Linked DNA regions of Homo sapiens. The protein of the gene in region 6 purifies or fractionates together with the protein of the main gene of each other region. This does not show direct contact. Each region holds a gene or a part of one and is shown on either strand. Other genes may lie near its edges. The genes, in order: SUPT5H, TXLNG, NEK3, RNF138, NOC2L, CPNE2 and EBF3.

Region 1 (3,500 bases), on a different chromosome or scaffold from region 6:
TTCCCCCCATGTAATTTTTTTTGTTTAGACCGAGTCTTGCTCTGTCACCCAAGCTAGAGTGCAGCAATCTCGGCTCACTGCAACCTCCACCTCCCGGGTTCAAGCAATTCTCCTGCCTCAGCCTCCCAAGTAGCTGGGATTACAGGCGCCCGCCACCACGCCCAGCTAATTTTTGTATTTTTAGTAGAGACAGGGTTTCGCCATCTTGGCCAGGCTGGTCTCGAACTCCTAACCTCAGATGATCCACCCGCCTCAGCCTCCTAAAGTGCTGGGATTACAAGCATGAGCCACCACGCCCAGCCCCCACGTAATTTTTTTAACACACCGTTCTGTACCTTTCTTTTTCTCAAAACTACTACTAACTCAGAGCTCTCCCACAGCAGCACATGCCTCATATACTATATGGCCCATAATTTGTTTAACCAGGCCCTAATCATCAATAAACATTTAGGTCACCAAACTTTTGCAACTGCGAACAGGACTACAACAAGCATCTTTGTTCTCAGGTCTTCATGCACTCATGCAAGTTTAACCATAAAGTAAATTCTAAAGAGGAACTGCTTGGTCAAAGGGTTCCTGCATGTTAAATGCTAACAGGCACTGCCACACAGCCTTCCACACAGGCAGTGCCCACCAACACTTCCACCACCAACATATGGGTGTCCCTGGGAACCCACAGCTTTTACCCAGCATGGTATCCATTCTCTTGCTCTCCAAGAACATCCAGAGCACCTCCTGTCCCTTTGACAATAAACTACTTTTCTTCTCAGGTAAAACAGTCCCAGGAAAACAGAGGCAGGATGTGTTCTAAGTAACCCCTCTTCCCATAGGTAAGGGAAAACATGCACATTCATTATCATCATGGAAGTATGAACTAGTCTTATCTTTTTAGGAACTGATATTTGGCCGTAAATATAAAAAATCTTTTTTTAAAAAAAGTGCGGCCAGGCATGGTGGCTCACGCCCGTAATCTCAGCACTTTGGGAGGCCAGGGCGGGCGGATCACAAGGTCAGGAGTTCGAGACCATCCTAACACAGTGAAACCCTGTCTCTACTAAAAATATAAAAAATTAGCCAGGCATGGTGGCACGTGCCCGTAGTCCCAGCTACTCAGGAGGCTGAGGCAGGAGAAACAGTTGAACCCAGGAGGGAGAGGTTGCAGTGAGCCATCGCACCACTGCACTCCAGCCTGAGCGAGACTCCGTCTCAAAAAAAAAAAAAAAAACAACGACAACAACAAAATGCACCACCTTTACCTAGCAATTTGACTAACAGGGATTTAACACGTAGAACAGAGATTTTTCATCTGGGGTGGTCTGTGTTCGATGAAAAAACTACAGCTCCTATTTTCAGTAACCTGGAATTGAAATTTAGCATTTACATCAATTACATACAATGGCAACAAACCACACAATGTTAGCTGTGTCACTGGCTCTTTCACAGCACATTACAGCTATAGGTATCTCAAGGCAGCATTTACACTCACTGCTACTTGAAAATTAGATTCTCAGACTACCTACAAAGTCTTATTACCTAAATATGTTAACAAAGAAACATATGCACCAAAATGTTCTTTTTAAATATTCTGATAACTGTACTTCAATAAATTGTCCTCTTTGGAATCCTATGTATTTTGTTTTATGCATTTCAGAAGATGATTCTGAGAAGGGAACAGGGTTTCACCAGACTACAGAAGGGGCCGTAGCACGAGAAAAGTTAAGAACTTTGGTCCTTCACGCCTGTAATCCCAGCATTTTGGGAGGCCAAGGCGGGCAGATCACGAGGTCAGGAGATTGAGACCACCCTGGCTAACAAGGTGAAACCCCGTCTCCACTAAAAAATAGAAAAAATTAGCCGGGCGTGGTGGCGGGCGCCTGTAGTCCCAGCTATTCAGGAGGCTGAGGCAGGAGAATGGCATGAACTTGCAGTGAGCCAAGTTCATGCTACTGCACTCCAGCCTGGGCGACAGAGCGAGACTCCGCCTCAAAAAAAGAAAAAGAAATGGAACTAAAAGTAGAAGCTCAGCCTCTGCTCGGCACTGGCCAAGCACTATGACATACCAGCCTCGTCCAGAATGAAGCCTCCATGGCGGGGTTTCTTGGGGGGTCGGTCATCATCTTCTTCCTCCTCTTCCTCATCGTATTCCTCCTCCTCTTCCTCCTCCTCTTCGTCCTCAGGCTCTTCTTCTTTCTCACTGCCCGCTGCACTCCGCCGCTCTTCGTCTACCTACAGGGGTCAGGCAGGGTTGTAGCACCAGAATTCTGCTACCCCAAAAATCCAAAAACCAAGTTCCTCACCCTAAATCTGACCTCAGATTGGCCTGGCCAATCATAGCCCACTTTGCTCTGCATATATCCCTTTCACTCTAGCCTGGCCTCTCTGGTTACCATCCTATCTCAGCGACAGCACTGCCATCTCCCCAGCCACCCAAGCAACCCTGGGAGTTGACCCGGGCTTCTCCCTGCACTAGACCTCTTGCTCACTTTCCACCGAGTCTTTAACTATAATAGCTTGATGAAGCTTGGTCCTTGGGCCTCATTTCTTTCTCTCTCTTTTTTTTTTTTTTTTTGAGACAGAGTCCCACTCTGTCTCCCAGGCTAGAGTGCCATGGCAGAATCTTGGCTCACTGCAACCTCCACCTCCTGGGTTCAAGCAATTCTCTTGCCTCAGCCTCCTGAGTAGCTGAGATTACAGGTGTGCGCCACCACACCTGGCTAATTTTTGTATTTTTTTAGTAGACACGTGGCTTCACCATGTTGGCCAGGCTGGTCTCGAACTCTTGACCTCAGGTGATCCATCCGCCTCTGCCTCCGAAAATGCTGGGATTACAGGTGTGAGCCACAGCACCTGGCCCATCTCTTCCCATTCTACAACTCCCCAAGGCCATCTCGTCCTCTCCCTTGGCGGTGGTGGACATCTCTGTGACAGTGACTCCCATCTCTGTTTCTAGTCCACACTGCTCACGAAGATCACTGGCCACCCCTGTTGCTAATTCTGTGGCCATTCTGTATTCCCTACCATCCCAGCAGCATCTGGCACCCCAACCATGCCCTCCCTGGAGAAATGCTCCTCTCTTGGCTTCTGCCGTATCATGCTCTCCTGGTTTTTCTCAAAACTCCACCAGCTCCTCTTCAAGCTCCTCTTACTGTTAACCCCTTCAAATCTGACATCAATTACCAGGGCTCAGTCCAGGGCCACTTTGTTCTCCCTCCATGCCCTCTCTCCCTGTCCATTTTACTTTCCATGACCTCAGTTCCTGTCTCTAGAGATGACACGTGTCCTCATCTGTCTATAGAGTCCCACTTTTTTCCAGAACTCAAGACCTCCATGCACCAGCAGCATCCTGGATGCCTCCCCTAGATGGCCTCTGAGCCCTTTCATACTCACTGTGTCCCAAACTGACCTCAGTGTCTTCCCCTAGACCTGTGATGGCCTCCTCCAATTACCGACAGGCACCAAATCCTCATCCTTTCTGCCTGTAAACATCATTTCTCCAACCC
Region 2 (3,500 bases), on a different chromosome or scaffold from region 6:
ATGATTATAACCTAAAATCTCAAATATCTGCTCTCCCATAAATTTTGAAAGTAGCTTTTGTCCATTTGTGATAAGAGAAGGATACTAAACACCTCCTCACCTCAACAGTATTATTCAGAAAAGGAAGAGGCCCTCTTTCATACAGAGAGTAAATGCACAGAATTTAAATTTGTGCCACATCATGACCAGGAAGTGTTCACAAGGGGAAAAAACTCAAATAGGGTTAACAATGTGATAGAAGACAGTTACTGACATAAGAATAACATACTGGAATAAAGGCATCTTTACCATGTGTATTAGGGCAGGGATAGCTGCTTAAAATATCAGTCTCAAAATTTCCATGGCTTAGCATGAGAGAAGTTTATTTCTTGTTCACCTATAGTCCAGTGTAGGTTTTCTTTGTAAGTAGGGTGGCTTTCCTGTATGTACATAGGATATGGAGGCCTAGGCTTCATTAATCCTGTGGCTCTGCCATCCCTTAGGGTCTTGGAGATGTCTGCATTTTGCCAGAGTCGGGGAGAGATGGTTGAGAAAGAACTTGTGCTTCTAAGAATAAAAGTCTTGGACAGTCGTGTCCTATGCCCACATTCAGTTGGTGGGAACTTCACGTGGAAGTCGCCCCTTGGTGTAAGGGGGCTGGGGAATAGTCCCTGGCTGGGCACTTGTCTCATAGTGCCAACTCCACAGGAACTTGGGGGAGCATGGGGTTTTGATGGATAGCTAGCTAGCCATCCCTGCTGTACTGTCTCCTTGAGGATAAGATTAGAATAATTAATATTCATTAACTGGGGACAGTTTCACTTCTGTTAAGGTGCTAATTATGTTAAGTGGTGAATTTTTATGTGGAAATCAATTTAGATTTATAACTAAATGGGTTTCTTGCCTCCTTTGGTACTGAATAGTTGTGTGATTCATTTTAACTAATTTCCTTATACTTTATAGTTAGGTCACCTCTCAGTGAAACCTAGAAAGTACCATATTTACATCAATTTTGCAAACCACTAAGGAAGAAAAAACTATCAGGCTATGATGTTCCATTGCTTGTAAACATTGATTACATTAGATTTAACCCCTTCTCCATCTTTTTTCTCCTTCTCCTTTCTTCTAGTTTGAAATTGGCACAATGGAAGAAGCTGGAATTTGTGGGCTAGGGGTGAAAGCAGATATGTTGTGTAACTCTCAATCAAATGATATTCTTCAACATCAAGGCTCAAATTGTGGTGGCACAAGTAACAAGCATTCATTGGAAGAGGATGAAGGCAGTGACTTTATAACAGAGAACAGGAATTTGGTGAGCCCAGCATACTGCACGCAAGAATCAAGAGAGGAAATCCCTGGGGGAGAAGCTCGAACAGATCCCCCTGATGGTCAGCAAGATTCAGAGTGCAACAGGAACAAAGAAAAAACTTTAGGTAATAATCCGTTCAGTGGTTGGACGTTTCACATGCTAATCATTTTACTTGTGTTTTCTGCAGCCCAGATAATTTTGAACACAGCCACTTTAGAGGTGCTTAGCCAACACCCCTAGTGTCTTCGGTGAGGTCAGTCCATGTGTCTGCTGCAGTTATGTGCAGGAGGCGAAAACAGCAGAGAGGACGCTTAGTTTTTTTTTTTTCCAAATAATCAAGAATTGGCTAATTAAAAAATTTTTTTTGTAGAGACAGGTTCTCACTGTGTTGCCCAGGCTGGTCTCAAACTCCTAAGCTCAAGCAGTCCTCTCCTGCCTCGGCCTCCCAAAGTGCTGAGATTTCAGGTGTGAGCCACTGTGCCCGGCCACATTGCAGTTATTTCTGATCATTTTCAGTAATTGTGTTTAATCGTCTCTTAAAGGTCTTATTGGCCTTGGGTTAAATGAGAGAAGATTTCATTAATAAAATTTTATGTGAGTAGAAAAGCATTCTTTTTTGAAGTCACCCTTTTTCCCCCATAGCAGTCTGTATGTCAGAGTTATTTTGAGATATATATTTTGATGCAATATCTTACATATAAGAATGAACATTAAAAAAATAAAAATGGTACCTATCACCTAGCTTAAGAAATAAAAGATTACCCCTTACTTCGAAATGCCATTAGTCCCCTCCTAATCTCAGCCACCTGCCTCTCTCTGCCAAAGTCCTTACAGTATTGCTAAGGTCTTTCCCCACAGGAAGAGCTATCTTGTCATCCTTTGGTTAGTTAACCTTAGTTAACACACAGAATATACTTAGTAAATCATAAGAAAAGCACACGTTTTTAAATTGTTCGTAGGAAAAGATATGTTCTCCTGTGATTATGTGTGTCTTTGGCAAAGTGTAGTACCAACTGAAACTCCCTTTGAACTTGCTTCTATATTCGAACTTGGTTAGGAGGAAGCTTTAAAAAAAATTCCATGCCCTTTGTAACTTGCCCTTTGTCTTAACTTGGACATCAGTGATTAGGCAAGGAAATTTATAAGCTTTTAACAAGAGTTCTTATAAATAGCTCGCAGTGTTAGTGAATGAGTTAAGAAATTTGGGGTGGGTATGGGGAGGGGAGCGAGGCCTGCTAATCCAGAATTTAAAAATTGCCTTTTTCATTGAGCTGGTAAATCTCTTATTTATAATCATAGGTGTAAATTAGTTTACTCTGGATGTCAGAGCACGGGAATTGTTAGTAGAATTTACAGGTTAGATTTGATCTCATTCTTCTGGGACTTATTTCTTTTCTTGTTAACCATCAGGAAAAGAAGTTTTATTACTGATGCAAGCCCTAAACACCCTTTCAACCCCAGAGGAGAAGCTGGCAGCTCTCTGTAAGAAATATGCTGATCTTGTGAGTATTAAGCCAAGGATGTGAGAGCCATATAAAATATAACAAAATGTGTGTGTGCTTGATAAGTTTCTTAAAGTACAAATTTGATATGGCCTTAAATGTAAAATTATATTTTATTCTGAAATTGAAGAAGAGAATCTGTTTTGTTGGGGCTTTTTATTGGTTGTATAGTTTCATTTTATGAGGTAATATATAGGGAACATTGTAATACTAAGATGTGGCATAGATTTTCTAAAACTCAGTTTTAGAGTCTAAGTCAGCCTTTCCATTGCTATGTTGTGATGCCTTAGGTGCCACTCAGTTGGGGTGTAGTGGTTCCTGTCTTAAACTTTTCCTAAGGGAATTCTAGAGATTGAGGACTGTTTTGATTGAGATTGTGAGTTACATGAAATCATCTGCTAAAACAATACTTTGTCTCAGAAATACTTCTTTAGCATCTACTATGTGTCAAGCATCCTTTTTTCCATTTTCTAGAAACAGTGACCTTATCAAAGAGTTTGTTCTCAGCTATATTATTTTATTTTATTTTTTTGAGACGGAGTCTCGCCTGTGGTCCAGGCTAGAGTGCAGTGGTGTGATCTCAGCAGACTGCAAGCTCCACCTCCCGGGTTCACGCCATTCTCCTGCCTCAACCTCCTGAGTAGCTGGGACTACATGTGCTCGCCACCACGCCTGGCTAGTTTTTTTAATTTTTTAGTAGAGATGGGGTT
Region 3 (3,500 bases), on a different chromosome or scaffold from region 6:
ATGCCCGGCGGGCAACCTTTTTTCAGGAGATTCAGATAGATATAGAGGAGGGAGATTAGCACGCAAACATGGCCAATGAGAATGATTGGGGGACCTAGATAAGGGCATGTGGACATTGCAACTTTTCTGTAGATTTGAAATTTAAAAAAACTAAACGGGGAAATAGTTGGTAAAAACCATTAATTAAAATAAAAAAGAATATCATTTAGAAAAGTCTGGAGGAGCTGGGCCTGGTGGTGTGTGCTTGTAGTCCCAACTACCTGGGAGGCTGAGGCAGGAGGATTGCTTGAGCCCAGGAGTTCAAGGCAGCAGTACAGTGACATCATGCCTGTGAATAGCCACTGCACTCCAGCCTAGGCAACACAGTGAGACCCCATCCCTTAAAAAAAAGAAAAGGTGGGCTGGGCGCGGTGGCTCACACCTGTAATCCCAGCACTTTGGGAGGCTGAGGCGCGCGGATCACGAGGTCAGGAGATTGAGACCATCCTGGCTAACACGGTGAAACCCTGTCTCTACTAAAACAAATACAAAAAAAAAAATTAGCTGGGCGTGGTGGCGGGCGCCTGTAGTCCCAGCTACTCTGGAGGCTGAGGCAGGAGAATGGTGTGAATCCGGGAGGCAGAGCTTGCAGTGAGCCGAGATTGTGAGGCTGCACTACAGCCTGGGCAACAGAGCAAGACTCCATCTCAAAGAAAAGGAAGAACCCTATCCCTTAGAGCCATCCAGCAGACTGTGTGGGAAGTAGAGAGCTGCCAGCAGGAGATGTGATCAAAGGCTGGGTGCTGTGTCCAGGGTGGTCGGAATAGAAACTACACTGGATGCCTTCCAGAGTCCTTCTTCCAGCTGTGATCATCTGAGTCCGCAAATATTCCCTCTTGCTACTGAATTCCCAAATGCTACTGAAGTGATATCTCAACTGCCCCAATTTGAAGGGGGTGGGGATTGAAAAGCAGAGAGTTTTATTGTGAACACTACTCTTAGGAAGTATCTAGGTGTTAGACCAACATTATATGTTTTAATACCTAGGAATTACTTGTGATATCTATTCTTATTAAAGGTAAGAAATTATTTTTTGTACTAGAAAATACGTAACCTGCTTGTGATTACATTGCTTCTTTATGCTTTCAGTGACATCTGGTCCTTGGGTTGCATCCTGTATGAACTCTGTACCCTTAAGCATCCAGTAAGTATGGCGTGCAAAATGGAAAAGGCAGCTTGTCATATCTAGCTGAGCCCTAATAATGTGACAGATTCTAGTTGGCAGTTTGCTTCCCTAGGATGAAGTCATTATAAAAGTTTGTATATGTTTCCAGTGCAGTCATCTGCCCTGAGTTAGTTTTGTAGCATATACTAATAGGAAATTTCCATTATTCAGTTTGGCTGTGCAATACATAACCTTTCTCTCTCTTTCTTTCTCTTTTCCTCTTTTCTTTCTTTTTGCTATTCTTAATTTTTTATTTTGATAAAATAAATATAAAATTTGCCATTTTATCCATTTTTAAGTATACAATTCATTGTCATTAATTACATTCAAAATATTGTGCAACCACCACTATTATCTCTTTGGGGGTTTTTTGTTTTGTTTTGTTTTGTTTCGTTTTTGAGATGGAATCTTGCTCTGTTGCCCAGTCTGGAGTGCAGTGGTGCAATCTCAGCTCACTGCAACCTCCGCCTCCTGGGTTCAAGTGATTCTCCTGCCTCAGCCTCCCAAGTAGCTGGGACTACAGGTGCATACCACCATGCCCAGCTAAATTTTTTTTGTATTTTTACTAGAGACATTTTTTTTGTATTTTTTTGTATTTTCCCCCATGTTGAGCAGGCTGGTCTTGAACTCCTGACCTCAGGTGATCCACTCGCCTCGGCCTCCCAAAGTGCTGGGATTACAGGCATGAGCCACTATGCCCGGCCACTACTATCTCTTTGTAAAACTTTTGTCATCACCCCAACCAGAAACTCTGTACCCATTAAATAGTTGCTCCCCATTTCTTCCCTTTCCCCAGTCCCAATCTAATTTCTGCCTCATGAATTTGCATATTCTAGGTATTTCATACAACTGGAATTATAGAACTTTTGCCCTTTTGTGTCTGGTTTATTTCACTAGCACAGTGTTTTCAAGGTTCATCCATGTTGTAGCATCTATCAGGATTCCATTCCTTTTTATGGCTGCATAGTATTCCATTGTGTGTATAGACATGTTTATCCATTCATCTGTTGAGGGACACTTGGGTCGTTTCTGTCTTTTGGCTATTGTATATAATGCTGTTATGAACAAATGGTGTACAAGTATCTGTTAGAGTCCTTGATTCCAAATTTTGAGGTTTACATTTAGCAGTGGAACTGCTGGGTCATATGGTAATTGTATTTAGCTTTTTGAGGAAACAGCAAACTTTGCAAGAGTGGCCGCGTCATTTTTTTCCTCAGCTTTTTGCAGTTAGATTTCACTTATATGAGTTTCCTCTCTAACTGAAACATCATGAAAACATAGACTTTGCCCTATAATGTGTTTTTTCAAGATATTTTTAAAAATATGAACAAAAAAAGGTTAAATAACTTGTCCCGCTTGTTCAGCCATTGTTTATTATATAGAACAACAACTGCAGGGCCAATTCCTATTAGTTCTTAGCTTTGCATAGAAATAAATTCTGTTCTTTGGGCACAGGCTGAAGGTTAGCTTTTTTACAGATGTACTTGAGGGCACATAGAGCTCAGGAGAGGGTGAATGGTTGAGAAACAATCTTCACCACTACCAGATGAAAGTAGCTCAAACTGAAGACACCTGGTATTAATGAGAGGTTATCTTCCTTGAATATAAGTGGTTTATAATGATAGCTACACAGTTAGAACAACTTGGGGAACCTTTAAAATGCTGATGCCTAGGCCCACAGCACAGTGATTGAATTAAAATCTCTGAAAATGTCCTGGGCATTAATGTTTTTAAAACAGGTGATTACAATGTACAGCCCAAGTTGAGAACCACCATAGTCTACAAATAAAATTATTTTTAAAATTCCAACATCTTACAATTCTTTACTTCCTGATGTATCTTTTTCATAATTTACATGTATACGTTCTTCTTTTTTCCAGCAAGAATGAGTATTAAGGACTATAGTGCCCTGAATATTTGGCATGAGATCTGTCATCCCTTGTCTGCTCGAAGACAAAAGTTGTTCTCAAACCTTTAGGAAACACAGATAGTTGGTGTAATGGTTAAAAAGCCAGAGGCAAAGCAGATTCAGTAGTATTTGTCATTATCACAATCTGTCCTTTGTTATGTGTTGATTTTTCTTTTTCATATATTCACTTACATTTTATATTCATAGGACAATACACTTTTTAAAAAATAAACTTCTTTTAAATTTTAAAACAGTTTTAGATTTACAGAAAAATTACAAAGATAATACAAAAAGCTTCTATATACCCCACACTGTAATTAACATCTATCATAGCCTTGAGGTGTAGAATCATTTCTTAAGCAAGATTCGACAAGCAGAAATTATTAA
Region 4 (3,500 bases), on a different chromosome or scaffold from region 6:
TCCAATATATTATCTCATTTGATCCATACAATAACCATATAATTATTATTAGTTTTATTTCATTTGTAAGTAAAATAAAAATGAAGTAAACTGGAAAATTTACTTTAAATTGTATCCTTAGTTTTTCTTTTCTTTTCTTAAAACTAGAGACACAGTCTCACTGTTGTCCAGGCTGGGTCTCAAATTCCTGAGCTCAAGCAATCCTCCCGCCTTGGCCTCCCAAAGTGCTGGGATTAAAGGCATGTGCCACCACACCCAGCCATATCCTTACGTTTAAATGAAGTACATCTTAAAAACTGAATGGATAAATAACTGAAATAACACACAAAAAACCTTCAGTAATTAAACTCTAGCCAAAGTTTATGATATATCGAATATTATGCAGAAATGAATAAAAATTTGGTAATCCAATATAAAACTAAGTAAAATCTTAAATATGAGCGAGATTTCCTGGAACATCTTTGGCACTGTATTTGTCTATTTAAGCATAACTGAACCCATTCTAATAAGCAAAGTAGGTAGTACACCTTCTTAGGTGGTATGTGAGAGCTTAAGGTCATCCTCAATGGTTATTGAAGCATATTCTTTTTATTTTCTTTATTTTTAAATAGACAGGGTCTCACTATGTTGCCCAGGCTAGTCTCGAACTCCTGGGCTCAAGCAATCCTCCCCTCTCGGCCTCCCAAAGTGCTAAATTACAGGCATGAGCCACCGTGCCCGGTCCTGAAGCACATTCTTTCACAACTTTTCCTAGCATACTCACTAAAACAGCTTAGAAATATCTACAGTTCTTATTGATAACATTTTCCTTCCTATTCTCCTTTCTGAAGACAATTATTTATATATCAAAATGTTCAGCTGAAAGGGAAATCTCTCTCCCAGCTCAGTTTCTCCTGTTCCATTCACAGCTGAAATAACTTACCTATGAAACACTTCTAGGATCATTATATGTTGGAATCCTGAATTCTGCTCTATCTCCCTCATTATCAAAAAGCTCTCACCATTTTCTTACATACCCTCAAAATGTCAAAAAATATGTAGGCATCAAATACAAAGTCTAAGTCTTTTCCTTCCTTGCTTTATGCATTCACATACTATATGCTGCAAGAAAACAATAAAAATACCTACTGACTTTATTCTTACTTACAGGTATTTTCACCTACAGCAATCTACCTGACTAGATCTACTTGTCTGCCATCTACAGAGCAAGTAACTGAGGCCTCAATAGACAGGTTGTGCTACTGCGCAGGAATGAGTTCCCGGTTCATCTTTCATTACTTCACTCTTCTCCAGACTGTGCTATATTACCTCACACTATGCATCTCCCTTTTTATAATGAGAGTTACTGCAATTTTAAATATCTCATTTTGCTTCACAGTCATCAATCCTTTGTTGACAAAAATCTACCTTACTGATAATGCCCCAACCAAATATAAATCAACTACTTTCTCTTGCATACATGAAGTGAAATAAATAGAACAGCATGTTTTATTCTAAGCAGAAGACTGTCTCAAACGTATGTACTTACCACAGGAACTATCTGAAATAGGTGATTACTGTTACAGTGATCCAGTAAACGCTGTCTGGTAAAATTTGATTCTTGACACAGGGGACACTTAAAAGTAGGATGACCAGAAGAACTATAAAACAATTTTAAGTGAAACATACTTAATTCAGAATAACACAAAAATAACGCTCTCCTATTTTTTGAGGAATCACTATACATTTTTTAAAAAAGTTATAATTATTAGACTATTCAAAGATTCTCTCATTTTGAACATATGTATTCAGGAAATGATGCATTACAGAGGTTCCCAATCTCAGTTTACAGTACTCTTAGTGTCCTCAATAAATTTTTTCATGGCACCTCTAGGCCAAAACAAAAACAAAAACAAAAACCTAGCTGACTCCATATATTATGTAGTTAGGTCCAAACTTAATTGTAGTTGTTTTCTGATGCCAATAGCTGTCACTGTATGTCCCTTGAAAATTTTTAATATTCTGTAGTATTCCACATTTTGCAAACCTTTTATCTAGGAACTTAAAACTTCTAAAAGACTTCCATCAATATCGTATCTCTAATAAATACCAGGCCCTAGGAATCCAACATCCAAAATTCAAAGGAAAAGAAAAAACAAAAGCACTGATCATGAGAATGAAATACTCGAAAACATTCTGAGGATCAAGCATCACTGAGTTTTAATACTTCTGAATTTCAGGAAGGGACAGTTCAACACAGACAACTTTACCTGAATCGTGTGTGGAAGAAACCTGACCACAGTGAAAGAGAATAACTAAACTCTTCTAACCTAATGTGATTCTTAAAAGCAGTAACTGCATTTTCTATTTCTAAACTGCTAACTTCAAACACTATGCCTAATGATGTAACTGATTTTTTTTTTTTTTTTAAGTTTAATTTATGGCCAGGCGCAGTGGCTCATGCCTGTAATCCCAGCACTTTGGGAGGCCAAGGCAGGTGGATTATCTGAGGTCAGGAGTTCGAGACCAGCCTGGCCAACATGGTGAAACCCTGTTTCTACTAAAAATACAAAAATTAGCCGGGCGTGGTGGCAGGCACCTGTAATACCAGATACTTGGGAGGCTGAGGCAGGAGAATCACTTGAACCTGAGAGGCGCAGGTTGCAGTGAGCCAAGATCGCACCACTGCACTCCAGCCTGGGAAAACAAAGTGAGACTCCGTCTCAAAAAAAAAAAAAAAAAGTTTAATTTAAAAAGCTATTTGATAAGTGATAAATATAATATTACTTGCTAAAGTGGCAGGATTTTTCAAAAGCTTACCTTGTATTCTCTTGGTAAGTTTCTGTGTTATCAGATGTGGATGTTTCACTCCTATTGCTTAAGAAGCACAGGGGAAAAAGTTAATACCTCAAAGTAATGAAAACACACTAAAGGTTCATTATCTTGAACCATTAATGAAGAAGACTAGTCTGAATTTGTTTTAAAAGTCTGAACTTCAATACACCTTTTTCCTATTGGGTCCTTGAAAAAACAAAATTTGAACTTCAAATGGTTCTGAACTATGAAATAATTACAATATTAATTACTTTTAAATAAATTGACTGCTTACTAGATTCTTATTTATGTTCTTTAAAATTAACTTATGCACAGTTACAGAAGTATAGAGAATTTTGCAGAATTACCTTAAATCCCATTCCTCTACCTTTACCTAGACTAGTAAGGTTTTAAATGCTACGGTAGACTCAAGAATTTGTGAACTTTTTTACTTCAAACTAGGACATGGTATAAGGTTATGCCCTCCAAAGTGCAGTAATTTAAGAAAATATGTAAATGTTCATTATGTTTGTATTTTATTTCCAGAAAGGAAAGAAACCAGGCTTCACTAACATTTAATATACAGAACAACTTAACATCTCCACTTTTACCATATGCCAGAGAGTCATGTGTCACATGGAATATCAGAGGAATCCTGAGGGAAGAGTAAGTATTCCATACAGGGACCGTCACCTGTGTGCTACAGA
Region 5 (2,777 bases), on a different chromosome or scaffold from region 6:
CAGGGAGCAGGGGATCGACGGGGAGACCCTGCCACTGCTGACGGAGGAGCACCTGCTGACCAACATGGGGCTGAAGCTGGGGCCCGCCCTCAAGATCCGGGCCCAGGTGAGACGCTGGGGAGTGAGGTCAGGGTCTCCAGACCACAGCTGGGCAGAAAGCTCTGGGTGGGTGTGCGACAGCCCCCACCAGGCCATCTCTCTGCAGGTGGCCAGGCGCCTGGGCCGAGTTTTCTACGTGGCCAGCTTCCCCGTGGCTCTGCCACTGCAGCCACCAACCCTGCGGGCCCCGGAGCGAGAACTCGGCACAGGAGAGCAGCCCTTGTCCCCCACGACGGCCACGTCCCCCTATGGAGGGGGCCACGCCCTTGCCGGTCAAACTTCACCCAAGCAGGAGAATGGGACCTTGGCTCTACTTCCAGGGGCCCCCGACCCTTCCCAGCCTCTGTGTTGAGGTTGCCGGGGGTAGGGGTGGGGCCACACAAATCTCCAGGAGCCACCACTCAACACAATGGCCCTGCCTCCCACCGCTTTATTTCTTTCGGTTTCGGATGCAAAACAAAAAATTTTAAAAGAAAATGTGACTTCAAAGGAAAGGAACAAATTTTCAAAGACTTGGGGGAGTGAAGGCAGAGCCTGGTGCAGATGGACGAGGTCTGCAGACGGAGGGCAGAGGTGGTGGAAGGGGCCAGGGGCCTGCAGGCCTCCCCCTGGAACTGGGACTGGTCTCGGTCTGCTGACGTCAGGGTCAGCTCCCCCGCGGAGCTGACTTCAGCAGCCCACAGCTGTGGGGCTTCAGCAGCCACACCAGCCCAGCCCAGCCCAGCTCTCGATACGTTTGGTCTTTCATGCTGAAAAATAAATAATAAAGCCTGTCCCGTGTCTACTGCCTCCCCCAACTGCACAGACGCCAGCCTCTAGGCCTGACTGCCAGGGAGGTGGAAACACTGGCCACCAGCCCGGCAGCCCCTACAGGCCCCCCAGATGGGCTGCCTCAGTCGTCCTCTGAGAGCTGCAGATCCTCCAGCTCGTCCTCCGGCCCCTGGGCCAGCTGCTGCAGCTCCCCAGGGGCCAGCCCCGCCTCTGCGTCTGGGTCTCCATCTGCGGGGAGAGATGGAGGCTACATAAATTTTGCTTTATCAGGAAGAAGCCAGCCTTAGAGGTTACTCATCACTAATTAATCACGGCACTAATTAATTTATCCCTGTTGCTGGCTGCCAGAGAACAGAGCATTTGGCCTGGCCTTCCCAGGGAGGGAAAAGCCTGGCCCAGAGCCCCACGCCCCCCGCCCACGTGGCTCTGCCCTCCCGCCAGATGGGCTCACAGGGCCACACCCTCTCACCCCAAGACCATTCACCCTCCGAGTTGCTGCTGTCCTCCTCGCCCTCCTCCTCGTCCTCTTCATCGTCTTCCACCCCATGCCGAGTGCTCAGGGGCCTCAGTATCCCTGAGGAACAAGAAGCAGAGTCCATATGACTCCCACCCACAGGGTCCACCAGCAAAGTCACAGTGGGGGCAGGAGGGTGGCCAGGCTCCCAACACCCTTCCCTCCGCTGACTTCCAGCAGGTGGAGAGGAGCCCTGGGGAGGAACTGGGAGGTCACAGGCCTGGGGACAGAGTTACCAATCCCAGTAGGCCTTCACTTCAAGGAGGGAAGGCGCTGGCACCAGAAGCCTGGCAACACTGAGGTTGGCCCCAGCTGGGCCAGAGACTGGTGAGCCCCCTGCAGGATGGGTACAGGTGGCCCTCGTGGCTCTGGGAAGTCCAGCAGAGCCCTCCAGGCCCACCCTTCCCCTGGGAGCACCACGCAGGCCCCACCTCTCTCCGAGAATCCCTCGGTGTCGTCCTCTTCAGAGCTGTTCAGGTCAAAGAGGTCTTTAAATTGCTTCCTGTCCTCATCCTTCCTGTCAGCCATCTTCCTTCGTTTGATCTCAGGGAAGTTCAGGTCTTCCAGCTGGAAGGCCAAAGAACCAGGGGCTCAGGTGAGAGAGGGCAGGGGCTGGCGGCCACAGCAGGGCCAGGCATCGCCAGACCCACCACCAGGGCCCCATGTGGCCAATTTCTAGTCCCCTCTGTTCCCAAATCACAAAGCCATCCTCCAAGTTGTCCATCCCATGTCCAAGGTCAAAGGCAGAGCCCTTCCTGCTTCTCCTCACGGGCCCCTGGTGCCCACATACTGGCCTGGGTGACGAGGTCAGTCCAGCCACTCCACCTGCCCGGAGCCTCCAGCCCATCAGGCCTGAGGGGGCATGGCCTCCCCAACCTAGTGCAGCCTGGGGCTTCCCCTCCCTGGAAACGCCTGGTTCTGGCCAGTTCTCCAACACCTACCCCCTCTCCAAGTCGAATCATCCGGGCACGGCCCTGGCCGCCTGGCACTGTTTCCAAACCCTCGCCCTGGTCTCAAGTCATAGTGCGCTAGATCTGAAACCCAGGAAGTCACAACACACCCCCAGGTCCCCTCGCCGAGCCGCACCCGCTCTTTGCCACTGATCTCCAGCTGGATCTCCCGGTCACGCAGCTTGCGCCAGTGGCTGTAGTACAAGGTCAGGGGTGTCCCCTCTTCCCGGGTCAGCTTCTCCCAGGCTTCCTGGGGGGTTGGGGGAGTTCAGGGTCATGCCTCACCCTGGGCAAACCCCCACATGTAGCTGGGGCTATACCCTGGCAGGTGCCCTCAGGTGGCACTACCCCCAGGGCCCACTAACCACTGCCTGCTGCTCAGAGACGCCGAAGGAAACCCTCTGGCGGCGGCTGCAGATGTATGCCGAGTTCTCCTGAACCTT
Region 6 (3,500 bases):
TTGTGAAGGCATTCATTCATTCATTCATTCAGAGATGGGGTTTCACTCTCTTGCCCAGGCTGGAGGGCAGTAGCATGATCATAACCCACTGCAGCCTCAAACTCCTGGCCTTAAGGGATCCTCCTGCCTTAGCCTTCCAAGGAGTAGTGCTACAGGTGCAAGCCATGCACCTGGCCTGGGAAGGCATTTAGATGGGCCAGTTAGGAACCAAGAGGTTGGGGGAGGTTGTTTGGGAGGTGGTGATCCGTGGGGGCAGGAACAGAGTAAGAGCCTGAGGTATGTTCAGGATATGCTAAGAATTCAGTTTGCTTTGAACGCAGGGCATTTAAGTGAAGGAGATTAAAAAAACACCAAGGCAGGAGAGCCAGGCAGGGTCTGAGGGGTCCTTCACAGCCTTGAACCGAAGGGTTGGTCAGGCAGTGGGGAGCCATGTGAGGTTCCAGGACAGGGGAGTAACACACGGGAACACACAAAGGCATGGCTTCTCCCTCCAGCCTGGCCGGCTTCCCAGGCATCGCGTGGGCTCAGAAGCCAGCCAGACAACCAGGGGACGATCTCGCTAGCTCAGCTGCCCCAGGGAACTTCCTCTCTGGGTCTCAGGGGTGGCCCTGGCTTCTGGGAGTCTTTGAAGACCAAGGAGCTCATCCGGGCGAAGGGCCTGTGCATCTCCAGCGGAATTACTGCGCATCGCGGGAGTCGTTGCGCATTGCAGGAATCATTGCGCGTCGCAGCCACAAGCAGGGCACTGATGGGCAGGGCACTTCTGAACGACCCCCAGGGGAGGGCAGGCAGGGGCCAGTGCAGGGAGGGGGCTGCTGGCAGGGCTCTGGAGGCCTCCCCAGCTTGTCAGCCCCCACTGCATCATTTGTGGAGCCAGCAGCCGGTTGCTAAGAGACCTGTTGCTAAGTTGTAAGTTGGGCCTTTTTACTCCAAACAAAGCTGGTGATTATCTGCCAGGGAAGCGGCCCATTGATGGGGGAGGGTGTGGGGTGGGGATGGAGGGGGTGCGGAGAGCCGGGAGGGGACTGGTACCGTAATCAAGCCCTTCCCCGCAGGCTTGTCATTCAGCAGCAGCAGAGGCCTAGTGATCTTCTTGCTGGAGACGATCTAGGGGAGAGAGGAGAAAGGGCGCTCAGTGAGGAAGCGGGGGAAGCCCGGGAAGGAAAAATCCTCCACCGGCACCGGAAAAATCCTCTTGGCAGGGCTGCACCCCGCCCTGGCTGGCTGGTGACCCGCCTGAGCATCATCATCACCCTGGGAGGTGGACAGCAGCCAATCTGGGCAGTGAGGAGCCTGAGGCCCAGAGAGGGTAAGAGACCCGCCTGAGGTCTCCCGCTGCAGTTGGACTCCCACTGCCTGGTTTGCCCCTAGGAAAAGGCATTTTGGAGACAACTGTGGGAGGTTAGCCCCCTAACTCCCTCCTCCAGAGGCATTCCACAGACCCCACCTGCCTCAGGATATGATCTCTGATGGACAGAGTCAAGCTCAGATTCTATGTATTTTCCTTTTGAGACAGGTCTCGATCACGGCTCACTGCAGCCTCAACCTCCTGGGCTCAAGCGATCCTCCCACCTCAGCCTCCTGGGTAGCTGGGACTACAGGCATGCATCACCACGCCTGGCTTTTTTTTTTTTTTTTTTTTTTTTTTGGTAGAGACAAGGGCTCATTATGTTGCTCAGGCTGGTCTCGAACTCCAGGCTCAAGCGATCTTCCCGCCTTGGCCTCCCAAAGTGCTGGGATTACAGGCATGAGCTATAGAGCCCGGCCAATTCTTTCTATTTTTATTGGTTTCAATAGGTAATACACTTACACAGGGTGCAATAATCAAAACAACATAGAGAGGAAAAGTGGGCCACATTGCAAAGTCACCCTCCCACCTGTGTCTGCCCACTGCACTCAGGGGCCAGCATGGTTCGTGCTTCCTGGGTGCAGTGCGAGCGTCGTCCTGTGCAGCGGGGAGCACACATCAGTATGATCTAGTCCTGCTCCTGTGGGGCTAGTTCTTCTCCGCAGATCCACACACCTGCTCTGTGCCCTGGGGACTGTGCCACCTGGCTCTTTTGCCCTCTGGCTTTCAGAGGTTCAGCCAGTTGGGGGGATGGGCAGGAGACGGGAGAGCAGGTGGCGTGAGAGGTGGGGGCCCCCGTTTGATGGGAGCTTCTCCATTACTCTGTCTTCTGCCTCAGTTGCAGTCCAGAGGCCTCCCTCTATGGGCCACAGGTCTTACCAGGCCCTGGCAATGCCACTTCCTCACCCTGCCTTCCTTCCAGGTGAAGGTGGTCAGCTTTCCTCTGGGGCCAAGCCCTGGACTGGTTTCCCCATCCCTTGTCAGTTCCCTGCCCTGTCCACAAGCCCTTAAGCTCTCTTCTCAGTTATACCACAGGGTAGGGACCCTGACTACTGTACCCTGCTTCTTACGCAAAAAGTAGACATCACAACCATGGCAGTCCCTTGCTTTCTGCATGGTCACCATCTCCTGGAAGGCCCCGGGCATTTCAGTCTCCACTAGGACCCCTCAAAGCATTTTCCATTTCATTCCCTTATCAACCATGTAGGCTGGGCAGAGCAGTCATCATAATCCCCAAGGAAAATGTGGGGAAACTGAGGCCCAGAGGGGGATGGGAGCTTATCCAAGGGCATACAGCCATAAGGAATGATTGAGACTTGTGTCAGGGGCGCCTAGCCCCGCTTGCTCCCGGCCTCCAGGAGCTTACCAAGGACTGAGATGGATGGGGAAGTGTGGCCCAGAGAGGGAAAGGAAGTTTCTCAAGGTCACACAGTGAGTCTGCCACAAAGCGGGACTACTGTGGGTGTCTTGGTTGCTGGTCAGATGCTCCTACCCCCAGAGGTCAAGACCACACCTGATTATATCTAACAATCGGAATCCCTGGCCACCTGGGGCCCCAGATCCTGAGAGGCATTCTGTTTGGCTGCCTCTCCAGATGGGAGCTCTTCAGCCCGGCCTTGAACCCGCCAAGACTGTTCCCCACTCTGCATCTGCACTTTGGGACCCACCCAGGAAGATGGGGCTAGGGAAAGACAGCACGAGAAGAGACTTTTTGAGGGGTTGCCCGGTCTTTGGGCCCCTGCTCCCACCCAGGAGGGCCCAGCTCACCGTGCCCAGGCTGCAGGAGAACTGGCCCAGGAAGTCATGCTCGTCCAGCCGCATACTGGACTTGTCCTGGTCAAAGAGCGCGAACTTGAGCTTCTGTACCTCCTCGAAGTGGTAGTCAAGCACGAACTTCTTGGAGAAGGCGGGGTTGAGGTTGTTGATCGCGGTTTCTGTCCTGTCGTACTAGCAGAGGGGCAGGAAAATGGAAGTCAGAGTCAAGGCAGCTGGTCCAAGACCTCGCAGGCTGCTGGAAATCATTCTGCTAACTTGTACAATGCCTACTCTGTGCCAGGCTCTTGTGGTCATCGTCAGTGACTCACTATCCCCAGCTCACAGACAAGGACACTGAAGCACAGAGAGGTTAAGTGACTTCCCCAGGGCTGGACAG
Region 7 (3,500 bases), on a different chromosome or scaffold from region 6:
GAACAAATGTATTAATATGTTATACATAAATTAATGAGAACGATCATTCTGACAAAAATTAAACAACACCAGCGGTAAAAGATTTTAAATTACATTCGTACCAGGAGTTCATGTGAAAGCGTCAGCCCCACTTGGCGTTTTCGTGCAAAGTTTTCTCTTCTTTCCTGAGAAGAGAAAAAAGGTCCCGAGGCGGTGCCATGACTCACGTCTCTCCGTGGCCCTTGCCTGGAGGTTCCAGGGCAGGTGGGCTGTGAGTGGCTTTGATTCTGGAGAGCCCCTGACTCACCATTACGATACAGAGAGATGACCGCACGGTCAGAGCCCAGACCTGGAAGCAGAGGGGGAAACTGAGGCCAGTCTGGTTCTCACATAGGGAGCGAGAGCAGGGCCTGTGAGCCGGCCTTGACTGGCGTCACGGGAGTGACCAGGCTGGGTCACCTCTCTCGACAGAGGGGGCTCCGGGCCTCCGTTGGCTTTGCACCTGTTGGCAGTGCACCGGTCAGTGTGGGGAAGCTGCAGCCTCTGCACACAGCAGTGCCAGGAGCCCTTCCCTTTTCCAAAAGAAGCCTTTAAAGAAGCCTTTGAGGAGGGCTGCAGGAGGGGCAGGACTGGGGGTTGTTGTCCCCACGTGTGCCCCCACCTCAGGAAGCAGATTCCCCAGCACGCCCTAACCACGCCCGAGGCTGGTGGACGGAACTGTGCAAGACCAGCCTCCCAGTTGAATAGGGGGGAAGGGCAGCCCCGCCCGCGTCAGCGTTGGCGGGAGGGCGCGTGGGGGAGCCTGCAGTAACTGCTCTGTCCTTCTGTCTTGCAGCTATGTCTGGGCTGGTAGTCCCGCCAATGTGAGGGACTTCTGTTTACCTTCCGCAGCACCCAGCATCAAAGGACGGACTTCAGGGGACACGTTTAGTATATTAAGACATGCTGATGGAAACAGTATCTTCAAAAAAATCAGCAGCAATTGAAATGCTACAAAAGACTTTGTTTAAAGATTTTATTTAAACTATTAAGAATCAACATGCAAACAGCCTACTTCTTCATGAACAATTCCATTTTATTGACTGAACTTTTCTCATATTTTCACATTTCTCAGTCCTGAAGAATAAGGAAAACAAAGCGACGCCTATTTTGTATAAAGTTTCCGACTCCGTCTTGGCCATGTCTAGTAATTGCTATGTGTTGGGAGAAACTTTGTGAATGCACCATTTTGATGATCATGAAACGCTGATGAAAAATGCCTCCAAACATTTTTCTGTACTCATACTTAGATTCACAATGGTTGTGTATCTCTATAATGTGAAATATTTTTTTGTGGTGATAAAAAGAGGGCCAAGGAGGTATGAGCCATCAGACTGGAAAAAAGGATGACTATATGATGAGGAGAAACTGGGGTGGCAGGGAGGGAGGGAGGGTTTATCACTGCTTAACTTCATCTTCATGAAATGAAACTTTGTAACTTATTGTAGTTAGAAATTGTAACTTTGATATTGAATTCTCTTGCCTTCAACAAGCACACTGACAGAGAAAAAATGCTACTGTCTGTTGGTTCCAATATTCTCCCACTGCTAGAGCTTCCTGTTAAGCAAGTGTGATCTGCAACATTTTTTCAACTTTTGCTAGCACTGTATACTATTGCATTCTTAGGCTACTGTGAGGTCTATGTTTCTTGTACCAGAAATTGTCCTTTTGACTTCTAGATCCTTCTTCCCTAATGTGTTTTGTATGTGGTTATAAAATTGTAGACTTTTGTGATTTTGCCAAAGTTGTAGCTAAATATTTATACACTTGTCTTGAATTTTTTTCAGATCCACTTAAAATATTTAGAAAAACAAGTTTTATTCCTTATGTGTCTTATAAGGAATAAAATGGTCTTCATTTGACACTTACTTTCCCATGAACACTTGCAGTTGCTAAGGGACTTTATTTTGTAACATATCAATTATAAATATTGTATTTATCTTTGAAATTTTGTACATTGCTTTTCCCACCTTTTCCTTTTTCTTCTTTCTTGTCTGTATTGGTTTTTGATCACGGCCTGGTGTTGTGATACTGGGAAGAGCATTAGCCAAGAACTTGTCTCTTTGATCTGTTTCGTTAAGCTGAACCAGTGTCTTTACATTTCATTTGTACTTCAAAAAATATGCTATTGTTTAGACTTTCCATCCTTTTTTTTTTTATTTTGAGGAAAAGTCAAATTCATTGTTTATTTTTATATTATTTTTAAGTTATCTGAACAAATACTTTTGAAAAAAAAGTTTGTTGTATAGTCAAAACAAATCGGTGCCACCCGGCCGTGACAAATCCTAGTAGATTCTGTGCATGTGGAGCGGCCGCGAAGAGGTGACACCGTTTGGGGCTGTGTCCTTATTTTATTTTATTTTTTTGTAGAATGTAAAAAGTCATTTTAGATGCCACCCATTGACTTTGCCACATAGCTGAACTGTGTTTACTGGAAAAATTCAGAGGCCTAAAGTTTAAAATAAAATTTACTTCTGATGTTTTAATTAAAATGTTTGCCACATTAACTTTTCTGATGCCTTAAAAGTGAACTTCTTTAAAGAACCTTTGTGCTATTTTATCACAGGCTTACACTACAATTGTTAATAAATACTTCATTTGGAGATGTATGGTGTAAAACACACAAACACACACAAAAAAGCACAAGCCCGCTGCATGACCCGTCTCTCCTTTCTGGGACTATTTCTGCTGCGTCCTGCACCCTCCTGGGCCCACCTCCGATTCACAGAGGTTTCAGGGGGACCCAAATCACTGCTGGTTTTCAATTTTTTTTTAACAATACATTTTTGTGGTCAGTTCCAACAGCACTGTCCGTACTTTTAAAACTGGAATGACCTCCTTCAGATATCGTGCCTCTTAGTGCCAAACCCACAGTGAGACCAAAAGTGTCAGGTGTTTTTTTTTTTTTCTTTCTCCTTTGCACTAAGTGCTTTGCAGACACGGCACAGCAAACATTTTGCAAACTGCAGCAGAAATCGAATTTAAAACAAAAAGGAGGGACTTTAAAATACCTTCTTGACAAAAATCAACAATGCACAACTTACAAAGTGTTCATTCTAGGGACAAAATTAAATAAACAGAATGTCCCCAGGAGTCAGCAGGTCACAGTCTGGCTTTGTGATGGTTGACAAGGTCTAGCTACATGGGAAAGCCTGAGAAGTCACTTTGGAACTAAATTGCCTCCATTTTATTTTGTACGAGTAAGGGTTTGATCTACAAAAGAGCTCACATGGACGCACTGAGAACGCCTGCCAGCTTCCCCATGCCCTCACTTGGTTTGTGTTTTAGGTTAAGTAGTCAATGCCCACATCACTTCACTGTCTCAAGACTGAGCACTTCACTAAATGGTAGATTTTACTGTTAAAGACCCTACAATAAGATTGTTTTATCTGTACATTTTTTCAGATATTTAACTGTATAAAAATGTTCATTTTACACAATATTTAATTAAAGTATTTCTTGTCTGTGAATTTCACTTTTGG

Evidence for each region.
Region 1: the proteins of CPNE2 (region 6) and SUPT5H purify together in Homo sapiens (co-immunoprecipitation; 2 studies listed by BioGRID and IntAct, with this or other methods). This does not show direct contact.
Region 2: the proteins of CPNE2 (region 6) and TXLNG purify together in Homo sapiens (affinity purification with mass spectrometry; 2 studies listed by BioGRID and IntAct, with this or other methods). This does not show direct contact.
Region 3: the proteins of CPNE2 (region 6) and NEK3 purify together in Homo sapiens (affinity purification with mass spectrometry; 2 studies listed by BioGRID and IntAct, with this or other methods). This does not show direct contact.
Region 4: the proteins of CPNE2 (region 6) and RNF138 purify together in Homo sapiens (affinity purification with mass spectrometry; one large-scale study listed by BioGRID and IntAct). This does not show direct contact.
Region 5: the proteins of CPNE2 (region 6) and NOC2L purify together in Homo sapiens (affinity purification with mass spectrometry; 2 studies listed by BioGRID and IntAct, with this or other methods). This does not show direct contact.
Region 7: the proteins of CPNE2 (region 6) and EBF3 purify together in Homo sapiens (affinity purification with mass spectrometry; 2 studies listed by BioGRID and IntAct, with this or other methods). This does not show direct contact.

The regions. Positions count from the first base shown.
Region 1 is NC_000019.10:39,452,082-39,455,581, reverse strand, and holds part of SUPT5H (transcription elongation factor SPT5), read right to left. Parts: intron 2,227-3,500; coding exon 2,061-2,226; intron 1-2,060. UniProt on the Homo sapiens protein: Component of the DRB sensitivity-inducing factor complex (DSIF complex), which regulates mRNA processing and transcription elongation by RNA polymerase II.
Region 2 is NC_000023.11:16,817,466-16,820,965, forward strand, and holds part of TXLNG (gamma-taxilin), read left to right. Parts: intron 1-1,108; coding exon 1,109-1,412; intron 1,413-2,698; coding exon 2,699-2,790; intron 2,791-3,500. UniProt on the Homo sapiens protein: May be involved in intracellular vesicle traffic. Inhibits ATF4-mediated transcription, possibly by dimerizing with ATF4 to form inactive dimers that cannot bind DNA. May be involved in regulating bone mass density through an ATF4-dependent pathway.
Region 3 is NC_000013.11:52,146,098-52,149,597, reverse strand, and holds part of NEK3 (serine/threonine-protein kinase Nek3), read left to right. Parts: intron 1-1,128; coding exon 1,129-1,183; intron 1,184-3,500.
Region 4 is NC_000018.10:32,122,874-32,126,373, reverse strand, and holds part of RNF138 (E3 ubiquitin-protein ligase RNF138), read right to left. Parts: intron 2,857-3,500; coding exon 2,800-2,856; intron 1,641-2,799; coding exon 1,529-1,640; intron 1-1,528. UniProt on the Homo sapiens protein: E3 ubiquitin-protein ligase involved in DNA damage response by promoting DNA resection and homologous recombination.
Region 5 is NC_000001.11:943,703-946,479, forward strand, and holds the end of NOC2L (nucleolar complex protein 2 homolog), read right to left. Parts: coding exon 2,700-2,777; intron 2,585-2,699; coding exon 2,471-2,584; intron 1,952-2,470; coding exon 1,816-1,951; intron 1,445-1,815; coding exon 1,355-1,444; intron 1,099-1,354; coding exon 992-1,098; 3' UTR 501-991; downstream 1-500. Other genes in the region: SAMD11 (sterile alpha motif domain-containing protein 11), read left to right, coding at 1-106, 206-451.
Region 6 is NC_000016.10:57,113,083-57,116,582, reverse strand, and holds part of CPNE2 (copine-2), read right to left. Parts: intron 3,296-3,500; coding exon 3,116-3,295; intron 1,108-3,115; coding exon 1,033-1,107; intron 1-1,032.
Region 7 is NC_000010.11:129,835,275-129,838,774, reverse strand, and holds part of EBF3 (transcription factor COE3), read left to right. Parts: intron 1-814; coding exon 815-832; coding exon of another isoform or gene 833-846; 3' UTR 847-3,500. UniProt on the Homo sapiens protein: Transcriptional activator. Recognizes variations of the palindromic sequence 5'-ATTCCCNNGGGAATT-3'.